Linked DNA regions of Homo sapiens. The protein of the gene in region 2 interacts with the protein of the main gene of each other region in a pairwise test. Each region holds a gene or a part of one and is shown on either strand. Other genes may lie near its edges.

Region 1 (2,713 bases), on a different chromosome or scaffold from region 2:
GAGCCAGGATGACAATGGCGGCTTTGTGGAATAGAAAGGCAGGAAAGGTGGGGAAAAGATTGAGAAATCGGATGGTTGCCGTGTCTGTGTAGAAAGAAGTAGACATGGGAGACTTTTCATTTTGTTCTGTACTAAGAAAAATTCTTCTGCCTTGGGATCCTGTTGATCTATGACCTTACCCCCAACCCTGTGCTCTCTGAAACATGTGCTGTGTCCACTCAGGGTTGAATGGATTAAGGGCAGTGCAAGATGTGCTTTGTTAAACAGATGCTTGAAGGCAGCATGCTCGTTAAGAGTCATCACCACTCCCTAATCTCAAGTACCCAGGGACACAAACACTGCGGAAGGCCGCAGGGTCCTCTGCCTAGGAAAACCAGAGACCTTTGTTCACTTGTTTAGCTGCTGACCTTCCCTCCACTATTGTCCTATGACCCTGCCAAATCCCCCTCTGTGAGAAACACCCAAGAATTATCAATAAAAAATAAATAAATAAATAAATAAATTTAAAAAAAATAAAAAAAAATAAAAAGTCAATCAATTAAAAATAAATAAATAAATAAATAAATAAATAAATAAATAAAAGATTGGGGACAAATAAACACTGTAACCTAATCCCATACATGTTACTGTGGAAACAAAAAGTGAAAATAAAACCTAATTAATGTTCCAATAAAAAAAAAAAAAAAAAAGAAAAAGAAATTCTTCCAGCTTCCTTCCCAGGGCAGTCTTTCTGTGTCTTTTACATTGGGAATTCCTTTTTCTTTCTTTCTTTTTTTTTGAGACCCTGTCTTGCTCTGTCACCCAGGCTGGAGTGCAATGGCATGCTCTTGGCTCACTTCAGCCTCCGCCTCCTGGGTTCAAGTGATTCTCCTGTCTCAGCCTCCCTTGCAGCTGGGATTACAGGCACGTGCCACCACGCCCGGCTATTTTGTATTTTTTGTAGAGATGGGGTTTTGCCATGTTGGCCAGGCTGGTCTCGAACTTTTGACCTCAGGTGATCTGCCCGCTGGGGATTATAAGCGTGAGCCACTGTGCCTGCCCACCCCCCCTTTTTTTTCTTTCTTGAGATAGGATCTCACCCTATTTCCTAGGCTGGAGTGCAGCAGAGCAATCATAGCTGACTGTAGCCTCCAACTCACGAGCTCAAGCAATCCTCCCACCTCAGCCTCCTGAGTAGCTGGGACCACAGGTGCTCACCACCACGCCTGGCTAATTAAACATTTTTTTTTTGTAGAGATGGGGTCTTGCTATGTTGTCCAGGCTGCTCTTGAACTCCTGGGCTCAAGGGATCCTCCTGCCTCGGTTTCCCAAAGTGCTGGGATTATGGGGGTGAGCTACTGTGCCTGGTGGGGAATTCTTGACGTAATTCTCCTGGATTGAGGAGACACCCTCCTCACCACTCACCACTCACCCACGCCTCTGCTGGAGGATGTGACTGTGTCTGAATGGACAGGAAGAAAGTTCCCATGTGGGCTTTGGATCTTGGGCTATCCCTTCACCTCTCTGGGCCTCAGTTTCCCAGCTGGCACAGAGAGGATGATTATCTAACATCACAGGAAGGCTGGTATGTGTGTTTGAAGTGCCCTACAGTAAGTGCCGGCTGAATGGCCTTGTCACCTCAGGTCCAGGCACCTATAGTGTGCGTGCCCAGGGTGGCCCCAAGTGCACTGAGAAGGAGAGATGGGGAAGCCCAAGTGACTGGTCTGGGAAGGTTTCCTGGAGGAGGGGGTAAGGAGAAGCAGGGTGTTGCTGATAGAAGGGAGCGCAGTGAGAGGAGAGGCTCCGGAGCAGGGGAGACTGTCACCCATGGGCAGCCTGATGGGGCTGAAGGGCTTAGCAAGCACAGGTTGGGCTAGGAAGTCCGATCCTGGCTGCTTCACCCAGTAGAAAGTTCCTGTCTTCTTGGGCCCAACTTCGACCTTTCCAGCTGACCCCATCCGTGTCCCTGCATTTGTCAGCCTTCAGGGCTCCCCAGATGCCTGCCCAGACCTGCCCAGGCTTAGCCACAGCCTCTGCTGGGCCTGGCAGAGACGGGAGGGAGAGGAAGCATTTTTACCTCTATGATTTCCTGTCCTGCAGCCAGCCAGCGCCTCCTCGTTCTCATGCTCAGCCCCTCTCCTTTCTGCCTTAGGGTGCACCCCATGTGGATTCCTCACCTGGTCTTGGAAATGCCTCTCTTCTCTACATTCATGGAGCAGGACCAGGCACAGTGGCTCATGCCTATAATCCCAGCACTGTGAGAGGCCAAGGCGGGCGATCACTTGAGGTCAGGAGTTCAAGACCAGCCTGGCCAACATGATGAAACCCCATCTCTATTAAAAATACAAAAATTAGCTGGGTGTGGTGGTGGGCTCCTGTAATCCCAGCTACTTGGGAGCCTGAGGCAGGAGAATCTCTTGAACCTGGGAGGTGAAGGTTGCAGTGAACTGAGATTGTGCCACTGTACTCCAGCCTTGGTGACAGAGCAAGACTCTGTCTCAAATTAAATAAATAAATAAATTCTGGGAGCAGTGAGCACTCACGGCTCTCGTGGGGCCACCTCTGACCAGGCCCTGTGCTCTCTGGCCCCTTCCTGGGCCCCAGTGGGTTGGAGATCAAGGCCCAGAGGGCAGGGTCTGAGCCCTCTGCCCAGAGCAGAACAAAGCGCTGAGCAAGAACACAGCAGGAGACGGGAAACACACCTGCCCGGGCAGCGCAATGTGCAAAGTTTACA
Region 2 (3,500 bases):
GTTGTGGTGGGATCATAAACTTGGCCCAAAGAGTAGGTATACTCTCCTTGCAGCATGGTGCCCCTTCCACCTGTGCCTCGGGTATACCTAACATAACTGTCCTTGTCCACTGGTTTTGCTAGGGTGACTTCAATGGGGGAACCATCCAGCACCTGTTGTAGAGAGCAAAGAAATATCAACGCGAGATGATATGAAGATAACCAAGTGTGGCTGAGCCCTAATAACATGACTCCTTCTAAGTGTTAGACTATTTGCTGTAGGTTTATTGATTGTATCTTGTCATTTTATAGGTTTGTTTTGTATGCCAGTTGAACTTTTTCTGAGCCATTTTGTTGGTAAGTTGCATAAGATGCCAACAGGTTTGACAGTGACATATTGGCCAGTGTCCATTGACATATTCATTATAAATTTACAATCTGGTTACAGTCACTGAGACAGAAAGTTATGTAATATTTTTATTAGGTCATATATGTGTTTTAAATTACATATTTATATAATTATATAACTACAAGACAATTTAGGTTTGTTATGGATGGTATAAAATCTCCATTACCTTGCACAATAAGATGAAGGTGAAAGGAAACCAATAAAGAAATCTTATCAATTATTAGCATTTAGCATGGGCAGCCAAATCAGGCCCTTCCAGCTGATAGCCCGCTAACTGTCTTGCTCCTTAGAGCAGCCACACAAGTAAGTTTTCACTGGAGAAGAGAGACATACTGTGGCTCTACCAAAGGAAGAGGAATCTGGGAGGCTGTTGCATTGCCTGCCACAGGTTCTTCCTTGTGAAGCCACCTTTTGATCTGCTGAACAGTTGGGAGCTAATAAACAGGGATGACAGGGGTCAGGAGTAGTTGGGAGTGAGAGTAGTATTGAGGTTCTCAGATCATGCACTGCTTAAAACCTGTCCTTAAGAATTCTGACACAAATTCTGAGACTGCAAACAGCTCCAGATGTCAAAGATAATGGATGTATGTAGATCTACGTGTGCTACTAACTTCTATGTATTGCTTGCCTACACAATAAACAATGATGGCTCTCAAGAAATTCTTGATAGATTGATGTATTTATTATCAAAGGAACAAAGTATTGTCTGAAAGCATTTGTGGCTTTGTTTTTGAATAAGAATGTGAAGATCCTCTGTTTTATATAAAGAACACTTTTATGTAAAGTGTTTCTACAGAAATTCCCATTCACAGCAGCTGAGTGTGCACCCTTACCCTCTGATTTCAACAGTGACTCAGTGGTTCCTGGATTATTGAAGTCTGCTGGACAAAGCTTGTGCTTCATGGTCATCCTGACCATTTTGTTCAGCCTCTTGGTCAATTTGTCCCCAGTATTATGTATTTACCTTACTTTTTAGTAGCAGGAGCCAGTGTCAAATAAGTTAGATGGAATACTCTGAGAGACAGACAGAATCCAGCTGATATTCAACAATCTTATATTGATGTTGATGTAATTAGAAAAAGTAGACCTGGCATACTGAAAATAGGGGAGGAACTTGGGTATAAGATTCTTTATATCTTCAGTCCAGTCTTGAGGAAGATGAGAGACCCAAATAGGTCTCTGCTTATAGGCACTTCCATATCAAGAGATGTTTTGCATGGAATGATTCTTTGCGGCAAATTCAGATATCTTGTAACAAATTTTGTTCTGCCTTCCTTTGTCCCATCCAAAAGCATTTTAAATTCAATATTGTATTTTAGTTATTTGGTTTAGATATTTCCAGAGCTAGGACAATATCTTATTAATCTGTATAGCCCAAGCTTAGTAAAATTTCTTTCACTTCATAGACTTACAAAAAGAATAAATGAATAATCATTCTGAAGCTCAATTCATCATTTTTCTCTCTGAATAGGCTTCCCTTCCTGACTTTCATAACAACCTACCATATTGGAAGCTTATAATGACTTGTCCTTCTTTTTCACCCCATCTCCAATCAGTTCCTGCGTCCTTTGAATTTATCCCTTACTGTTCTGCATATGGCTGTCTCCTACATTCCATTCCTACCTAAGTTCAAGACTTTATTTTGTCCCATTTGGTTGACTATAATAGCTTTATAACTAGTTTCTATGACATGTTTCTCTCACCTGTATTAAAAAGTCAGTTCTTACTAGGCTAATTTTCCTAAATTGTAAATGTGATAATTATCGTAGAAAAAATTTCAAGATCTCACTTCATCTAACAAATTAAATATAAATATCTCTATATATGCTCAAAAACCTTCATAGTTCCTAGGAAAACTTACTTTTGATTTTTCCATACCACATTATAGTCAAATATAATATTAAATATATATTTAACTAAATAATATGTGTAAATAATTACTCTAAAAATATCTAGCTGCAAAAATTGGGAATTTGAATATGTTTCAATTGTAATTATTCCAACGTAATTTTTGGCATTTAATTTGTGATGGCTGTTCCTTCCCAGCAATCATCATGTATACTCAGGAATGTTTCCATATAGAGAAAATCTAACTTACAAATTGTTTTCCAAGTAATAACACTTTTATGATACTAAATGTGATCATCAATGAAGATGAAATAATGCTTTTCTTTATAGACATGTATTTATGCATTAGTTTTTCTTTGCAGTTTTCTTTTTTGTATTTCAGAGTGAATACTTTCTCCACCCCACCCTCCAGTATTCAAACTTTTTGAGTTTGAGTGGGCCCCTGAGGAGCTAATATGCAAGAGGCTCCACAGTGTCTGAAGGGCCTAGGCTAAGAGATCCTCCCTTTGCCATCTGGATCCACTGCCTATGGAATTCACCACCTACCAGCTCCAGCCTGCTCTCTGCTCTGGGAAGCTGTTCTACATGGGGTCCTCTTTAGCCTTCTAGATTGTGATTGCATTTAGCCAATGGGGAACACTGGTAGGAGGTTGGAGAAGAGACAACAGTGAATTCGGGGCATTTATTCTGCTGGACCCGTCTTTGAGAGGTCACCTTGGGCTGACTGTGTCCTTTGACCAAAATCACTGCTTCTTTCTTTTCTCTTTTCTTTCTTTCCTTAATGGTGGGGTCTCACTCTGTTGCCCAGGCTGGAGTGCAAAGGCACAATCATAGATCACTGCAGCCTCAGCCTCCTGGGATCAAGAGATCCTCCCACCTCAGCCCCCGGAGTAGCTGGGACTACTGTAGTAGTCCATGCTACCATGCTCGGCTAATTTTTTGTAGAGATGAGGTCTTGCCATCTTGTCCAGGCTGGTCTTGCACTCCTGGGCTCAAGCAATCCTTCTACCTCAGCCTCCCAAAGTGCTGAGATTACAGGTGCGAGCCACTGCACCCAGCAACTTCTTGCAAAGAGATCTGCTCTACACAATTCTCTCCCCTTTCAGGATTTCTATTAATTCTCCAGCCCCTTGTACCTTTGACTCCAGAATGCTGTGAGCCCCAAATTCTGACACTCTTTTTTGATTTCCCTAGTCCCCACTCGCACTTTTGTAATTAATTCCTTTGCTATTTGTTTTCTTTTGGGACCCTGACCGATGCCAGAT
Region 3 (3,500 bases), on a different chromosome or scaffold from region 2:
GAAATCTAAGTCATCATTCTCTGGTACCCAGTTCAAGTCACTCCACCACCTCAGCATTTAACTGTTAACATTCCCTTTCCCCATAAAAGCTCCGTCCCACCGGCTTACTTACCTGGCCGGACAATGACAGCAACCTGGGGCGTCTCCCCATTAGCTTGAGGCTCCAGACCGCCTCCCGTCTGCAGGACACAAAGGGTTACCAAGTTTGCACTGAAGAGTCCCACAACCCTTCTTTACTAGAGCCATTTCTACTTTAGCTCTGCCTAGAAATCCAGGAAAGCAGGGAAATAAATCCCTTAGTTGAAAGAAAAGATCCAGGGACTTGGGAGTCCAGGGCAGAACAGACATCCCAGCCAGGGTATCACTCGAAAAGCAGACAGTACCTGGGGAGGGGTGGGTGTGGAGGCAGTGCGGGCCCCAGACATGATCTCCTCTGTGATATCCTTTCCTCCTTGGTTTGGATCTCGAATTCGGATCTGGGGAAAGAAAGCTATAAGATGAGTGGGAAGCAGGAAGAGCCCACCTCTCCACCCTGCCCCAATCTTAAGACTCTGGGCCAACTCCCCACCCCCCAGCGGGAAGCAGGTAGGTAGGTGCCAGAAACCCCTTGAGTTCCACTTTCAGCCCATCTGGCTGCTCTCGTAGTCCCTGCCCCAGCTCCCACCCTTAAGAGACCCTTGATCTCACAGAGCAGCCCTGTACATCACAATGCCCCTCCCTCCCTCATCCCTACCCCACCAGCAGTCCCCAAGTCAGTGGCTGCACACCCTGGGGCCCAGGACCCCCATCTAGAACCCAATCGGCTCACTTGTGGCTAGTGTGCCTGATCTCTGGGGGCAGGGCCCAGATCCAGTAGGTGGAGCCAGGGTGACTCAGCGGCTTCCCCAGCTCTGGCACCCTATTCTGGGCACCACGCCCAGGGCTTGAGGACTGAGCAGAGGCGGAGGCCTTGAGAGCTTCCAGGACTGGGGGGGCAGGGGGGAATGGGGGCTGGGGCCACAGAAAACAAACCATTTCCAAGGCAAGCCACTAGAAACCCAAAACCAAGCATAGTTCTTCCAACCCCCCAGCACCCAGGTCTCGCAGGAACTTCCTCGCTAGGCACTTCAGTCTTCCCATGACCTGCTTCTATGCTGAAATCTTAGCATCTTACAAAGAACCTGAGCCCTCCACAGACACCATTCTCTGCCCACTCTCAGCTCCTTCCTCCTCAAGTCACTGCTCTTTCCGGCACAATGTCCCAGCAGCACCTGACCTTGATTCTCCCCTTCCCAGATGTCCCGGAGCCCCTCACTGCTACTCACCGTCTTACGCTCCCTCTTGGGAGCAATCTGGGGTGGCTGGTTCATCAAAACTGGGGTGGGGGCCACGCCAGTGGGAAACTGCTGCACCCCTTGGGCTGGATAGTAGGCGCCAGCTTGGGGGAGGGGGGACGGAGAAGAATGGTGGTAGCGTCAGGGCCCAACCATATACTAATGCCTGCCTGACACCTCCCACCCCAAAACCTCTCACCACCCACAGCCGGCCCCTTGCCTTGCCCTGCCCTGCCCTCCTCCCCCAGGGAATTAGGTGTCTGTCAAAGCTGGGGAACCAGTCTGAACTGCGTTTACAAGAATTCCTAACACACACACACACACAAACACACACACACACACACACACACACACACACACACACACCCCTCGTAGGCAGGCACTCTTTCCTACCACACACCAGTGACCAGGAGGACTTATGTCTGTCCTTCCACCGTACAAGTTACTCTCGTGTGTGTACCCCACCCGCTATCAACATGTACACACATACTCTGAACCTGAAACAGAACCAGGTCTTTGGCTGGTAATGAGAGAAAGAGATCTGCCAACCCTGTTCCATTTAACTTGAGTCTAGTTCCTGTCTCCAGCCCTTTACAAAGGGGCAAAGAAACAAAGTAACATTATGAACTAGGCTCAAGATGAAGAAAAATTAATTCCTTAAAGCAAACTATCTCCAAAGTGGGTGAGTTCTTTTTTCCCCTTAATTTTTTTTTTTTTTTGAGATGGAGTCTCACTCTATTGCCCAGGCTGGAATACAGTGGCACAATCTTGGTTCACTGCAATCTCCACATCCCGGGTTCAAGCGATCCTCCTGCCTCAGCCTCCCGAATAGCTGGGATTACAAGAGTGCATCACCAGGCCTAATTTTTGTATTTTTAGTTGAGACAGGGCCAGGCGTGGTGGCTCACGCCTATAATCTCAGCACTTTGGGAGGCTGAGGCAGGTGGATCACTTGAGGCCAGGAGTTCGAGACCAGCCTGGTCAACATGATGAAACACCATCTCTACTAAAAACACAAAAATTAGCTGGGTGTGGTGGCACACGCCTGTAATCCCAGCTACTCGGGAGGCTGAGGCAGGAGAATCACTTGAACCCAAGAGGCGGAGGCTGCAGAGAGCCAAGACTGTGCGACTACATTCCAGCCTGGGTGACAGAGCGAGACTCCGTCTCAAAAAGAAAATTAAAATAATAACAATAAAATTTAGTAGAGACGGAGCTTCACTATGTTGGCCAGGCTGGTCTCGAACACCTGACCTCAAGTGATCCGCCTGTCTTGGCCTCCCAAAGTGCTGGGACTACAGGCGTGAGCCACCGTGCTCAGCCCCCCTCAAATTTTAAAATAGAGACAGGGTCTCACTAAGTTTCCCAGGCTGGTCTCAAACTCCTGGCCTTAAGCAGTCCTCCTGACTCCCAAAGTGCTGGGATTACAAGCAAGATCCGGGCACATTCTTTAATTTCATCCCTAAATTCCACTTGTTTTTGACAAGCACAAGTGTATTTGTTTAAATTTTGCATACATATAAACAAAAACATACATGTATGAGAGATTCATACTCAAAACTTTTCCTGATAGGTGATCAAAAAACTTGGAAGCCACTGCCATAAAGAACAGACTAATCCTTCCCTAGAACATAAATAAAAAATAGCTACAAAAACCTCCCAAATTTGCATTACATGGGCTCCCAACCATGGAAGAAGTGTCACAGGGAAAGCCTACTAATAGGCTCTCAGGCTGGTGCCTGATCCTACATTCCCTGATGTGGGAAAGACTCTTAACTCTCCTGGCAATAAAATCAAATTTTCTCCCCACAATCAACACCAGTTAAATATTAAGCACCAATCCCTACCACCTATTAACCTTATCATTTTTAGACCAGAAGCCAAGCCTGGGAAGGGTCTTCTGCTTTAGAAATCAGCAGATGAGTTTAGATGCTCCCTTGGGCTTGTTCTCACCTCTGACTCCCTCCCCTGCTTACCGTAGGTCCCAAATTCTGTAGGGCTTGCACCTGGATAGAAGCCTGGGGCTCCTGGCTGCACAGGGTACTGCTGTGTCGGGACAACGTATGTGGAACGCCCCTGGTGGGGAAGGGGGAGAGGGAGAGAAGGAGTTGAGGGAGCTATGAGTTCCATATCAGACTCCAAAAAGAACATAGGTCAAGACAAGACAAGCCAACTCTGGGCAATGAC
Region 4 (3,500 bases), on a different chromosome or scaffold from region 2:
AAGTCTCATTTTAATTGGAGATAGCCCAGAATGCATGTGCCCATCAGAGGGTACATATCAGTCTATTTTTTATTATAAACAAATAAAAGATTAAATCACACATCAAAGACCTAGACTCCTTCTCTGAGACACCAAAGGCCTAACAACCAGTAAGATAATTTTAGACAATTCTATTGAAAGTTATTCAAAAGGCATCAAGTCAAAATAACGAAACTGCCCCAGTAAAAAGGGGCTGGGCCTGGGGGCCAGGAAAGGCAAGCATGAGGGCCCAGTAGAGGTGGACCTGTCCCTATGGTAACTGAGCTCGGCTTTAAGGCCAGGCATTGGGGATCAGCTGCTAGGAGCCCACCTGTGTTCTTCCTGAGGGGTGGGGGCACCCTAGTCACTGCCTAGAGGCACATGGTCCCCCACCAGCCTACAGCATGGAAACACCCAATGTCTGCTCTAGCCTATTCTTAACCCACAACTGGGATGGGAGCTGGGGACAGGAGAAGGGGTCATGGGGCCAGGAGCCTATTCAGGCTCTACAACCAGACTTCCCTAGAGAGGCCCCGTGCCAGTTAGTCCAATGGCCACACACATCAGAAAGGGTAGTCAACAGCGTTGCACATGTAGGTTGGAGGTAGCCCAGGTGTCAGCCACACCCTGGTCACAGCAGATCCAGAGAGGCAATGTTCCTTGGAGCTGCAGGCTGCTGGATCTACTGCTCGTCCAGTCCCGGGCTCAGACCTGCAGGGCCAGGCCAGGCATGAATGCCTGCTTCCCTGACTCTGGACCCAGGAGGTGTCTGGGGAATGGCTCTGGCCCACCCACCCCAAGCTCTACCCAAAGTAAAGGCCTAGCCTGGGCTGGGGAGGGGCTGGTCACAGTCACAGGCTCAGCTTGGGCTGGGGAAGGGCTGGTGGGTATAGGGCAAATGGCACTCACACAGGGTAAGTCCTCCAGGCCCCTACCCAGGGCCTGCCCTGACACACAGCTGCTGTCAGAGCCACTGGAGCCACTGGCTGATGGGCATTGGGACGAGATCTCTGAGTCCTCAGCAGCTAGGGAGGGAGACTGGGTGAACTGTCAGCACGGGAAGCCCCAGACCCCAAGCCATGCCCTCCTGCCTCTGGCTAGGCCCAGACATACTCAAAGAGGGCTGGCCGCCCAGCTCTGCCTCAGCCTCCAGTGCTGCTTCCTCTGGGAAGCTGGGATACAGGGGACAGCGGAGACCCAGAAGAGCTGGGTCTCTGTACAGGTGCAGGTTGAGGGACCCCAGAACAGAGCAAGAGGCAGGGTCTCCAGGAAGGGAGTTCGAGGCCCCCAGGTAGAGGCTGTCATGGTCAAACGGGGCTACGGCAATGGACGCCCGAGAGCGAACTTCTGCATAAGAGAGAGGGTCAGGTTGGGACAGGCCAGAGCCTAGCCTGGCCCCAGATCCCAAGGAAAGTGCGGGCCAGCACTAATGGAGGGCCACAGTGCTTCCCGCACAGCTTTCCTACTCCCACCCCCACACCCTGTAGCCTGCCTGCTACCTCGGCACTTCAGGACATAGTTGACGGTGCGGTCGTTGATGGCTTCCTCGCTGGGAGCAATGTCTCGGAAGGCCTTGTTCCCCACACCCATGGACACCATCTCAGCCATGCGCACCTCTGGGTGGAGAGTGGACATAAGTGGGATGCTTCTGGACATAAGCCTGTCCTTGGGCCTCTACCACCCCCCAGATAAGTCTTTCCTGTACACCTCCATCCAGCACATTAACTGTCCTGTGAGCTGAGCCTTTCTAGTGCCAGGTGCTCTCCTCCCAACAATCCTGTGGGGCAGGTGCCATATTCCCCTTTTAAAGATGAGGCCCCTGGCTGGGCGCAGTGGCTCACGCCTGTAATCCCAACACTTTGGGAGGCCGAGGTAGGAGGATTGTTTGAGCCCAGGAGTTCAAGACCAGTCTGGGCAATATAATGAGACCTCTATGAAAAAATTTTACAAATTAGGCATGGTGGCACATGCCTGTAGTCTCAGCTACTTGGGAGGCTTAGGTGGGAAGAATGCTTGAGCTCAGGAGGCAGAGGCTACAATGAGCAAAGATCATGCCACTGCACGCCATCCTGGGCGACAGAGCGAGACCCTGTCTCCAAAAATAAAGAGAGAGAGAGCCATGATGCCCCTTATATTCAGAGAAGTTCACGTTGTGTCCAAAGTCAGAGGCAGTGACAGCAAGGCTGCCTGGCTTTGAAATCCTTTCTCCTGCACTGGTGGCTGTCGCTGGGCCTTCTCCCCACTTCCCGAGCTTTTCCCAGGTCTCTGGGCTCCTGTGGGTCAATGTAAGCTCTCCAGTGAGGGGAGTGTGGCGTGAAGGAGGGGCATGGACCCACCCTTGTTGTGGACGGCCTGCCTCCAAAGCAGGTGGGAGATGTCAGCTGTCCAGGCCTGCTTGATAGCCAGGCTGGAGGCCTGCAGCACAAAGGTGTCCCTGGCCTTGCGGCGGCGGAACCAGATCTCGAAGCGCAGGTTGCTGTTCCCACAGCACTCAGTGAGACCAAGGTCTGCCATCTGTGGCCAGCGGGAGAGAGGGGCTTGGTAAGGCATGGGGCGGGAAAACAAGTGGTGGGGCCTGGGGTGGGCAGGCCTACCTTGAAGGAGCGCTTGTAGGCAAATGTGTCAACCCCTGTGGGCCCATGGCGAGGCTTGCTGAAGAGCAGCAGCTCCTCAAAAAGGAAGATGCGGCGCACGGACTTGTGGCGCCCAGTGCGCACCACAAACTCATCCTGTCGCACCAGCTGCCCCTGTTCCTTGAGGTTAACCTGCAGAGTTGGGGGCTGGTGGGTGGCCAGCCTCTTCTGCCTTCTTCTTCACACCCACTGCCCTTGCCCTGGGATGACTCACATCACAGCCCTGGATGGCGTCCATGGCCAGCAGGTCGTTTCCGTGCCGCAGCTGGAAGTGCACAAGGCTCTGGGCCTCCCGCAGCGCACTGAGCTCCTGCGTGGGGCCCCCGCAGGCCCGTGCCAGCTCCTGCAGCAGCAGTGCGTACTTGCCCATGCGCTGGATGGGCTTTAGCAGGTAGGAGGCCAGGTCCAGGTGGTCCCCCAGTGCTTGCTGCTTGTCCTGTGGGCGGATGGGAGGCCACTGAGTGGTTTGGGGGCACTCCCCGCATCCCCTACTCCTCCTAATCTCAGGTTCACTTACCTTGAAGAAGGTGTGCCCATAGCTTGACATCAGGGCATCGGAGCGAGGCTTATTCTTGCTGTAGAGCGCGTACATCCCAAACTGCACCCTCTACAAGGACATGTGGCTCAGCCCCAGTGCAAAGGGGCCAGCTCCCTAAGGCTGGCACAGGCTAGACCACCCTCAGCTTGAGAGGACCAAAATGCCAGTAGATGCCTCTTAGGGAGGCCTCCCCTACAGACCCAGTCTTCCCTGCTTTGAACAAGGGGTGATTTGGCAAGAACAGTACTGGGCAAAGGGGGTGTGCCCACAGGCCCCCAAGGAAGAAGCCCCTTGCCCTCAGACTGAGCTCC
Region 5 (3,181 bases), on a different chromosome or scaffold from region 2:
GATGTGTATCCCCAAGTCTAGCAGAGTGTGCATAGATAGGGGTTCAATAAATGGATATTGGCCAGGCACAGTGGCTCACGCCTGTAATCCCAGCACTTTGGGAGCCTGGCCAACATGGTGAAAACCCGTCTCTACTAAAAATACAAAAATTAGCTGGGTGTGCTGGTGCACGCCTGTAATCCCAGCTACTCGGGAGGCTGAGGCAGGAGAATCGCTTGAACCCAGGAGGGTTGCAAGTTGCAGTGAGCCAAGATCGTGCCACTGCACTTCAGCCTGGGCGATAGAGCGAGACTGTGTCTCAAGAAAAAAAAAAAAAGGATATTGAATGAATGAAGGCATGAATTCTAAGGATCAAAAGTGAAGCTTTAAAAATGTTAGGCTGGGCTGTGGCATTTTGGGGGCTCACCAAGGCCAAGAACCATATCTTCTTTGAGTCCTGATAGCTAGCTAACAAGGTGGCACTCCTTTCAAAATATGTGAATAAATTCAAGATGGCAAAGTGACGTCAAGCTGTTTAGTTATGGTCGCATCCCACAGCCTGTGAACATCTGCTCAGTGAAGGGGGCAGGGCCGTGGGCCTCAGGGGCCAGGCACTGAAGGAAATACAAGCAGGCTTAGGAGGGTGTGTTTGTCTGTGGTGTGTCTGAAAACGCCAGTGCCCTCCTGGGCCAGGGCACCAAGATCCACTTAAAACACTGCGGGTGAGACATTAGATAGACAATGAGGACACCAAATCCAAGAGGTGTTTAGTGTAATGAGTGTTCAGATGGGTGGGGCAGGGTGGGGTTCCCCCCATCTGACCCTCTAGGGCTCTGGGGTGACTCATTCTTCCTTGGGCTCAGAGGTGGAGCTGATATTTGTTCCTCCAGTTGAGCCCTGCTCCCCCTGGCCCTTGGCGTTCTCAGTGTCTCCAGACACTAGAGCCACGTTCCTCAGATAATTGATGTTGAAGCAGTTGACCTGTTCATCCCCAGGACTCAGGTAACAGCAGAGGGCAGGGTCTCGCCAGATGTTACGTCGGGGACCACACAGATCATTGATGAAGGTTAATTTCTGATGAATGAGAAAAGTAAAACAGATGATGGGGTGGGGAGGTGGTCCAAGGACAGATGTAGATACTTGGGTGCCAAAGTCCCCCTTTCATCAGCTTCTACTGCTCTCTCCCTCGTTCCCCTCCTGGGGCCCAGAGAGAGTACAAGACTGCCTTGCACAGCTGGATTCCTTGTGACTGACAAATGTGTACATCTGGAAATGCCAGAAGCTTGTGGCCCGGAGAAGGCATAATAGGAACTTAGAGATGGGGAGCAGGCCAGGTCAGAGTGAAGACTTTTCTGGAACCAAGAAAAAAACACCTCCCCCACTAGTCATTATAACCAAAGGCTGGTTTGAGGTACTAAAGAGAAGGGGTGGCCTGCAGTTCTAGCTCTTTCCCTCCCCTCCCCTGCATTCCTCTGGAGACTAGACTCCACACACTCACCTCCTCCTCTGCACAGCAGGCCTGTTCTGGAAATGGCAGGTCACAGCAGCGGGCAGTCATGTTGTGGATCAGCCCAGGAATATGTTTACTATGTTGGTGTGAAAGGGGCAGGGGTTAGGGTCTTTGGGCATCTTCTGGCATCAGATGGGGTTGGGATATCATGATTTTGCTTTTCCCAAAGGTGTCCCAAAAGGAAGTTTTCGGGAAAGGAAGAGAGTGGGGAAGGACTAGGCAACTTACTGCTTGGTGAGAACTCTTTGGTTTCCACAGAGGTGGCCCATGAGGTTGGGGGTGACTCGACCGATGTCAATGGTCAAGATGTCCCGGTCATAGTTGGGGTAAGGAGCCCGACGGGCAAAGCACTCATCCCGAGTAGGGCTGGGAGGGTGGCGGCAACACAAGTGGTGGTGGGTCTTCACAGCATACTCCCGGTCACAGTATTTGTCAAGGGTATCCTCCCACTGTGGACCAGAGAGAGGGAAGTCAGAAGCTGGACACTTGGCCCCTTCTCTCCTGACCATCGACTTCCCTTATCGTCCCTGGCAACTAGATGAGGGGCTCCCAGCCCGAGAGGCCCAAAGGGAATGGCAAAAAAGTAGAGGGTTAGGAGGCAACTGTTGATGTGTGGGCTTGGGAAGGTGGACGGGTGGAAGCCTGGATGAGGTTCCAAGCTGGTGCCGGGAGATGAGCTGGAACAGTGGATGGAGAAGGTCAGGTGAGGCCAGAGCTGGACGGATGGATGGATGGTAGACAGATGCGTGTGTGGATCATGAGTGGAGGAGGCCAGAAGTGTAGTACGAAGCTCAAGATGAACAAACTCAGGTGACAAACACAATGGATGGACGGACAGCCACAAGCAGATGAACGGGTGGACGCACTCACAGCAGGGGGGGTACATGGATGGATGGACTGGCAGGATCAGAGGTCGAAGATGGGCAGGCAGGCAAACAGGCTCTCAGGGAGGCTGGGACGCCCACTTACGGCCTTCCATGTACAGGTGTGATTGTTCCCCTGGCGGCAGCAGCGCTGGAACTCCCTCTCCAGCTGGATCAGTGCCAGCAGCTCCCTTTGTAGGGGGTCAGTAGCTGGCAGGTTGCGTGGCACAGAGCGGAAGCGCCTCAGGTGGCAGATGTTCTTGATATTGTCCAATGTGGGCACCCCAGGAGGGAAAGGCAGCTCAAGACCCGAGGAAATATCAGGCTGATGGCTGGGGCAGGCCCGGAGCTGGTAGTGTGGCTGGGGAGCTTCCTCCTGGAAGCAGGAGAACCGAGCCTCCCCCTGCCGCGTGCAGCACCAGTGGGGTCGGGTCTTGACCGAGAACTCGGCCTCACAGAATCGGCTCATTGCTTCCTCCCACTAGAGCAAGAGGGGAGGATCAGCCCACTTTCCACATTCCTGCCTTCCTCCCAGGCTCCAGGAAAGGACACTGGGCAGGCAGATAAAGAAGAGACAGTGGTTGTCCTCTGCTCCCCTGGCACATTGGGGAGGCCCAGGGTAGGGCCAGTGAACGGGACCTGAGGTTCCTCCAGACCCAGGCCTAGTGCTCTAACCCTTAAAACACACATACTGTCTGGGGTTAAAGGACACCCCCCGGCATCAAGAACCCAACCTTACCACAAGTTTGGCACACTCTAGGCGGTTTGTGTGGCTGCGGCAGTGGCAGCAGCGGGAATATCCAATCTCCAGGAAATTGAGGGTCTCACC
Region 6 (3,500 bases), on a different chromosome or scaffold from region 2:
GCCAAGATCACTCCAGCCTGGGCAACTGAGCGAGACTCCATCACAAAAAGAAGAAAAAAGAAAAGGGTGAAAGAATTCTACAAGGAACACTTAAACTATCCACCACCTAGACAGAGTGACTTTTTTTTTTTAAGACAGAGTCTCGCTCTGTTGCCTAGACTAGAGTGCAGTGGCACAATCTTGGCTCACTGCAACCTCTGCCTCCCGAATTCAAGCGATTATCCTGCCTCAGCCTTCCGAGTAGCTGGGACTGCAGGCACCAGCCACCACGCATGGCTAATTTTTGTATTTTTAGTAGAGACGGGGTTTCACTGTGTTGGCCAGGCTGGTCTCGAACTCCTGTCCTTGTGATCCGCCTGCATTGGCCTCCCAAAGTGCTGGGATTACAGGCGTGAGCCACTGCGCCTGGTGACAGGATGATTTTTAATGTTTTGGCCCATGCCAAATATTTTTTGAAAGTTGGCATACTAGTATCTATAAGAAAATATCAAAATAGCCCACCTGTAGTGACAACTACTTGGGAGGCTGAGGCAGGAGGATCACCTGAGCCCAGGAGGTTGAGGCTGCAATAAGCCGTGATTGTGCCACTGCACTCCAGCCTGGGGGATAGAATGACACCCTGTCTCAAAAAAAAAAGCCAAATATCTATGTATTTGCTTAACCCCTTGAAAGTCACTTTCAAGATATTTCTATTAAATATTTTGTGCATTTCCTAGGAATAAATACATTCTCCTACATGAATATAATATGATTATCCTTTCTGTTTAAAAATTTTTTAGAGGGATCGGTTCTGTTTCCCAGATTGGTCTTGAACTCCTGACCTTAAGCAATCCTACCACCTTGGCCTGCCACCATGCCCGGCCAACATTGACTTTTTTTTTTTTTTTTTTTTTTTTTGAGACGGAGTCTTGCTCTTGTTGCCCAGGCTGGAGTGCAATTGCACCATCTCGGCTCACTGCAACCTCCACCTCCCGGGTTCAAGCAATTCTCCTGTCTCAGCCTCCTGAGTAGCTGGGATTACAGGTGCCCACCACCACGCCCGGCTAATTTTTGTATTTTTAGTAGAGACTGGGTTTCATCATATTGGTCAGGCTGGTCTCGAACTCCTGATCTGAGGTGATCCACCTGCCTTGGCCTCCCAAAGTGCTGGGATTACAGGCGTGAGCCACCGCGTCCAGCCGAACATTGACATTTTTAAAGAGACTTCTATTAGTTTTATAGAATGTTCCATATTCTGCATTTGATTATTTCCTTCTAGAATGTCCCACCTTCTGGATTTATCTCATTATTTCTTTGTGGTGATACTTAATTTGTTCTTTTATTGCTGTATTTCTTGTAAACGCAAAGTTACATTTAAATAATGGATTTGGGCCAGGCGCGGTGCCTCACACCTGTAATCCCAGCACTTTGGGAGACTGAGGCGGGTGGATCACCTGAGGTCAGGAGTTGAAGACCAGCCTGACCAACATGATGAAACCCCATCTCTACTAAAAGTACAAAATGAGCCAGGCATGGTAACGCATGCCTGTAATTACAGCTCCTTGAGAGGCTGAAGCAAGAGAATCGCTTGCACCCAGGAGGTGAAGGTTGCAGTGAGCTGAGATCGCGCCATTGGGCTCCAGCCTGGGCAACAAGAGTGAAACTCCATCTCAAAAAATTTAAAAAAAAATAAAATAAATAAATAATTGATTTGATTCAGGTTAAATATTATTGTCAGTAATACTTCATACATTGTTTTTGGCTTTTCTTGTGTATTTGTTTGCAAAAAAATGCCATAGACAAAACAGCTGATAACTAATGTGAATTATTAGTCAGTAGTTTATTGGTTAATGTTTTTCTTTTTTCTTTCCCTTTGAGGCAGTCTCCTGTCTCAGCCTCCTGAATAGCTGGGATTACAGGCGTGTGCCACCACACCTGGCTAATTTTTGTATTTTTTTTTTTTAGTAGAGACGGGGTTTCACCACATCTCTGGTCATGGTCATGGCCAGGCTGGTTTTGAACTCCTGACCTCAAGTGATCCACCCACCTCGGCCTCCCAAAGTGCTGGGATTACAGGCGTGAGCCACTGCACCGGTCCTGGCTAAGGTTTTTCTATTTAAACATATTACAATCATAACCTTTGGCTTTTGAGATACAGAGCTACTGTAACTTTTAAGTTCAACCATAAATAAGATTTTTGAGGAAGAACATAGAAATAGGTTTCCATTTTGTCACTTTGAGGCATTGCCCTCTGCAAAAATGATTTGAAAGTTGAAGAAGCTAGAAGAGTTTATATGTAGCAAAAGTAACCTGTAGAGGAATTGTAAAGGGGCCACAACAAGAAAAAATTTAGAACTGGGGAGGCTGGGCACGACTGCTCATGCCTGTAAAACCCAGCACTTTGGGAGACCAAGGCAAGCAGATCACTTGAGTCCTGAAGTTCAAGACCAGCCTGGGCAATATGGCAAAACTCTAGCTTTATAGAAAATACAAAAATTAACCAGGCGTGGTAGCACATGCCTGTAGTCCCAGCTACTTGGGAGGCTGAGACGGGAGGATTGCTTGAGCCCAAGAGGTCGAGGCTGCAGTGAGTTGAGATCGCGCCACTGCACTACAGCCCAGGCGACAAAGACCCTGTGACCTAAAAGTTGTCAGATGAATATGAAGATAAAATCAAGTTCCTGGCTGGGTGCTGTGGCTCATACTTGTAATCCCAGCACTTTGGGGAGGCCAAGGCAGGTGGATCACCTGAGGTCAGGAGTTCAAGACCAGCCTGGCCAATATGGTGAAAACCCATCTCTACTAAAAATACAAAAACTAGCCAGCCGTGGTGGTGGGCACCTGTAGTCCCAGCTACTTGGGAGACTGAAACAGGAGAATTACTTGTACCCGGTAGGCGGAGGTTGCAGTGAGCCGAGATCGTGCCTCTGCGCTGCAGCCTGGGTGACAGAGCAAGACTCCGTCTCAAAAAAAAAAAAAAAAAAAAAAAAAATCAAGTTTCACAGGTAGGTGATTATAGGATGAAACAGACTAGATATATATGGATTTTATAAAAAAATTTTTAACATACAAGATATAACCATTTGAATAATTCATAAGAACCTTGTTCTGCTCTCTTGCAGAGTTTTTGAGACGGAGTCTCGCACTGTCTCCCAGGCTGGAGTGCAGTGGTGCAGTCTGCAAGCTGCATCTCCCAGGTTCATGCCATTCTCCTGCCCCAGCCTCCCGAGTAGCTGGGATTACAGGCGGCCGCCACCACGCCTGGCTAATTTTTTGTATTTTTAATAGAGACGGGGTTTCACCGTGTTAGCCAGGATGGTCTTGATCTCCTGACCTCGTGATCCGCCCACCTCGGCCTCCCAAAGTGCTGGGATTACAGGCGTGAGCCACTGTGCCTGGCCTGAGAGGACAAATATTTTTAAAAAGAAATGATAGTTCTTTATGTATAGAATGTGGGATGATTTTTTTTTAATTGCCCTCGTTTTCAGAACATGTATTCAGTTTGATCAGTGATTTTCAGT
Region 7 (3,500 bases), on a different chromosome or scaffold from region 2:
CCTCCTAACATTAAATAACAAGACCGAAATGTTATCTTGGAGATTGGCTGGGAGAGGCACCTTTTTTTCCCATTCAAATTGAGTCCCTATGTAGTGTCAAAACAAGTCATTCAAACCATATTGACTGGTTAGCACTTTATAGCTTAATATCTATAGCTAACGTCAATATGAAGTTCTGAGATAACCACTTCAGAGATATCTGCCTCCCACGTGAGACCTAGCAGAAGGGTTTCCCCCAAGATTCCCCAAGAAGGGTAAAGAAGGCAGTATTCAGAAGTAAAATATCACACTCCTAAAGTGAGTTAAATATATTTAACTGCTTGATTTTACATCATATTCATAATACTGAATGAAAAGACCATTCACTGAAAATGAAAATGCATTTAAATCCTTGCAGAAGCATATGTAAGTTTTTTATATCTCCATTCAAATATTAAAGGACTTACACACAGTATATCAAAACAAGCCCCAGGAGGGACTTTAGGCTCAAAGAATGTGCAATCAGTCCCATGCAAACCTTTTCTAAAGACATAATAGAGAAAAAAAAGTATTCACTTTCTATAATAACTAAAATTCAAAATATGCATCTGCAGAATGAACTGCTGCTACATATAATAACATGGACGACTCTCAAAATGATTATGCTGAGTGAAAGAAGTTAGACCAGAAGAGCACATACTGTATGATTCCATTTATATGAAACCCTAGGATATGTAAAGTAATATACAATGAACGATAGCAGATCACTGGTTGCCTAAGAACAGGGATATATGGTGGATAGGAAAGGCAGGGGGGACATTATCTTGTGATGATGATTCCAGGGTTGTATACATATGTCAAAACTTGTCAAATTGCATACTTTAAAAGTACAGTTTGTTGTACATAAATTATATGTCAATAAAGCTATTTAAAATGTATGCAACTTTACTTTTATTATCCAAATTGTGGGGGAAAAGGTAAATAGACACTCAACTGTACTTGCAAGTAGGGGAGTTAATAGGGGTGTGAAGATGTTTTCCATTAAAAAATAATAATAATGTGTCCCTTAATCACTTTAGTGCTGACTAAGGCTTATCCTGTTAGAACGCAAGCAATCCTGAGAAATGGTAACACAGTGGGCCTTATCAGAACAGTATGGAGAAGAGGCCTTTAGAATCCTACCCCAGCTACTTCTTAACAGTAAGACCAAGGAAATGTGATTAAAATTAAAAATCTCTTAGTTTCCTCCTCTGTAAAATAGGAATAATCATAATAGCACCTACCTCATTGGGTTGTTGTGAAGATGACAGATTATATGTGCTAAATTCTTACGAAGTGTCATATATACATACACATTCAATAAATGTTGTCTACGTGAAAAAATGCTCATCATCACTGGCCATCAGAGAAATGCAAATCAAAACCACAATGAGATACCATCTTACACCAGTTAGAATGGCGATCATTAAAAAGTCAGGAAACAACAGGTGCTGGAGAGGATGTGAAGAAATAGGAACACTTTTACACAGTTGGTGGGACTGTAAGCTAGTTCAACCATTGTGGAAGTCAGTGTGGCGATTCCTCAGGGATCTAGAACTAGAAATACCATTTTACCCAGCCATCCCATTACTGGGTATATACCCAAAAGATTATAAATCATGCTGCTATAAAGACACATGCACAAGTATGTTTATTGCGGCACTCTTCACAATAGCAAAGACTTGGAACCAACCCAAATGTCCAACAATGATAGACTGGATTAAGAAAATGTGGCACATATACACCATGGAATACTATGCAGCCATAAAAAAGGATAAGCTCATGTCCTTTGTAGGGACATAGATGAAGCTGGAAACTATCGTGAGGACAAAAAAACCAAACACCGCATGTTCTCACTCATGGGTGGGAATTGATCAATGAGAACACATGGACACAGGAAGGGGAACATCACACACCAGGGCCTGTTGTGGGGTGGGGGAAGGGGGGAGGGAAAGCATTAGGAGATATACCTAATGTTAAATGACAAGTTAATGGGTGCAGCACACCAACATGGCACATGTATACATATGTAACAAAGCCGCACGATGTGTACATGTACCCTAAAACTTAAAGTGTAAAAAAATAAAAAATAAAAAAAAATGGTGTCTATTATTTCAGATGCTTTCTTGAAAACAATGATTTAGTGATACTATGGTGGTATCCCAACTGTCACTCTAAAGGACCTTATAGAAGAGCAAGGCAAACAACATATATTATTAGACTACAGAAGGAAGGAAAGCACTAACAAAATTCTGCGGAAATAAGAGCGAAAGAGTCAGGAATGCCCAACTGTGTCAGTGGAAAAAGAGCGGTTAATGAAGCAAAAGAGCGGAGGAAATGAAGAGGAAAAAGGTAGGTATTCTAGGGAAAAGGGAACAGTGTGTCCACAGAGGAGGGTTTATTTAAGAATCACCAATGTAAATGGAACACACTTTCTCTCTTAAAAAGAGAACTAAAAGTCAGAGCACACTTGGCAATGTGGATTTCATTTTATGTGTGATGAAATCAATGAATATTTTGATGCAGGCAAATCACATGATCAGATTTGCATTTTAGAGTAAAAGTTTTAGTCACAGTGAACAGATAGAAAAAAGAAAGCAATGTCATCAGTTTAGAGACCACTATAATAATGTGGGCAATGATGAGGGTATCTCTGATATATGGCAGTGATAAGATGAATGAAGGATTATTTAAAAGATAAAATTGACAGCACCTGGTGCCTGAACAGTAGGGTTAAGAGAAATTAAAGAATCACTGATAGCTCAGAAATTAAAGAATCATTGATGATTCCATGGCTTCTACTTTGGGTTACTGAATAAAGTATTACTGTAACTTTCAATTTTATTCTGTATGGTGTAAACTCCCTGTGTTTGAATCTACTACCTATTTGTTTATTCAGAAGATGAAGAGCCAGAGAAAACTGACTTTAACCTAAACAAGTTCATAATCCTTATTTCAGTTTTACTCAAAAACATAAGATATGCAGATGAGTATTTCACGATTTTATCCTTGCATATTTTAAAGATTTCAAATTCACATTGCAATTTCAAATATTTCATACCCTTATATATCCTTGTAGGAGTATTTAAGAAAGTATATTTTCCTCTTAAAAACTGTTAAAATCAACATTACTTTTTAAGTCACATTTTAAATAATTTATGTGGCTGAAGTAAAGGCCAAATAAATCCCTGCCCACTACTTATTTAAAGGTGTCTTGGTGGGAAACTGATATAAAATGACATCGTTAATGATAAGTGTTTAACTTTGGGAAGAGAGAGTGTGAATAAAACTGCTAGGTTCATAGTGAGCATTCAAATATTTCACTGAGGCTGGGCATGGTGGCTCATACCTGTAATCCCAGCACTTTGGGAGGCCAAAGTGGGTGGATCACTTGAGGTCAGGAGTTCCAGACCAGCCTGGAAAACATGGTGAAACCCCATCTCTACTAAAAATACAAAAAATTAGCGGGATGTGGTGGCAGG

What was found.
Region 1: the proteins of A1CF (region 2) and METTL27 interact in binary tests that used the Homo sapiens proteins (3 or more experiments, as listed by UniProt).
Region 3: the proteins of A1CF (region 2) and EIF4G1 interact in binary tests that used the Homo sapiens proteins (3 or more experiments, as listed by UniProt).
Region 4: the proteins of A1CF (region 2) and PLEKHG4 interact in binary tests that used the Homo sapiens proteins (3 or more experiments, as listed by UniProt).
Region 5: the proteins of A1CF (region 2) and ECM1 interact in binary tests that used the Homo sapiens proteins (3 or more experiments, as listed by UniProt).
Region 6: the proteins of A1CF (region 2) and POGZ interact in binary tests that used the Homo sapiens proteins (3 or more experiments, as listed by UniProt).
Region 7: the proteins of A1CF (region 2) and REL interact in binary tests that used the Homo sapiens proteins (3 or more experiments, as listed by UniProt).

The regions. Positions count from the first base shown.
Region 1 is NC_000007.14:73,836,804-73,839,516, forward strand, and holds part of METTL27 (methyltransferase-like protein 27), read right to left. Parts: intron 2,235-2,713; exon of another isoform or gene 2,057-2,234; intron 1-2,056.
Region 2 is NC_000010.11:50,816,128-50,819,627, forward strand, and holds part of A1CF (APOBEC1 complementation factor), read right to left. Parts: intron 153-3,500; coding exon 1-152. UniProt on the Homo sapiens protein: Essential component of the apolipoprotein B mRNA editing enzyme complex which is responsible for the postranscriptional editing of a CAA codon for Gln to a UAA codon for stop in APOB mRNA.
Region 3 is NC_000003.12:184,317,606-184,321,105, reverse strand, and holds part of EIF4G1 (eukaryotic translation initiation factor 4 gamma 1), read right to left. Parts: intron 3,390-3,500; coding exon 3,290-3,389; intron 1,418-3,289; coding exon 1,305-1,417; intron 844-1,304; exon of another isoform or gene 477-843; coding exon 384-476; intron 180-383; coding exon 113-179; intron 1-112.
Region 4 is NC_000016.10:67,286,032-67,289,531, reverse strand, and holds the end of PLEKHG4 (puratrophin-1), read right to left. Parts: intron 3,259-3,500; coding exon 3,169-3,258; intron 3,088-3,168; coding exon 2,866-3,087; intron 2,784-2,865; coding exon 2,613-2,783; intron 2,533-2,612; coding exon 2,355-2,532; intron 1,635-2,354; coding exon 1,518-1,634; intron 1,366-1,517; coding exon 1,132-1,365; intron 1,057-1,131; coding exon of another isoform or gene 1,044-1,056; coding exon 928-1,043; intron 730-927; coding exon 724-729; 3' UTR 52-723; downstream 1-51. UniProt on the Homo sapiens protein: Possible role in intracellular signaling and cytoskeleton dynamics at the Golgi.
Region 5 is NC_000001.11:150,511,109-150,514,289, reverse strand, and holds the end of ECM1 (extracellular matrix protein 1 isoform 1 precursor), read right to left. Parts: coding exon 3,092-3,181; intron 2,834-3,091; coding exon 2,459-2,833; intron 1,939-2,458; coding exon 1,718-1,938; intron 1,566-1,717; coding exon 1,478-1,565; intron 1,054-1,477; coding exon 823-1,053; 3' UTR 501-822; downstream 1-500. UniProt on the Homo sapiens protein: Involved in endochondral bone formation as negative regulator of bone mineralization. Stimulates the proliferation of endothelial cells and promotes angiogenesis. Inhibits MMP9 proteolytic activity.
Region 6 is NC_000001.11:151,449,495-151,452,994, reverse strand, and holds part of POGZ (pogo transposable element with ZNF domain), read left to right. Parts: intron 1-2,046; exon of another isoform or gene 2,047-2,085; intron 2,086-3,500. UniProt on the Homo sapiens protein: Plays a role in mitotic cell cycle progression and is involved in kinetochore assembly and mitotic sister chromatid cohesion.
Region 7 is NC_000002.12:60,888,074-60,891,573, reverse strand, and holds part of REL (proto-oncogene c-Rel), read right to left. Parts: intron 1-3,500. UniProt on the Homo sapiens protein: Proto-oncogene that may play a role in differentiation and lymphopoiesis.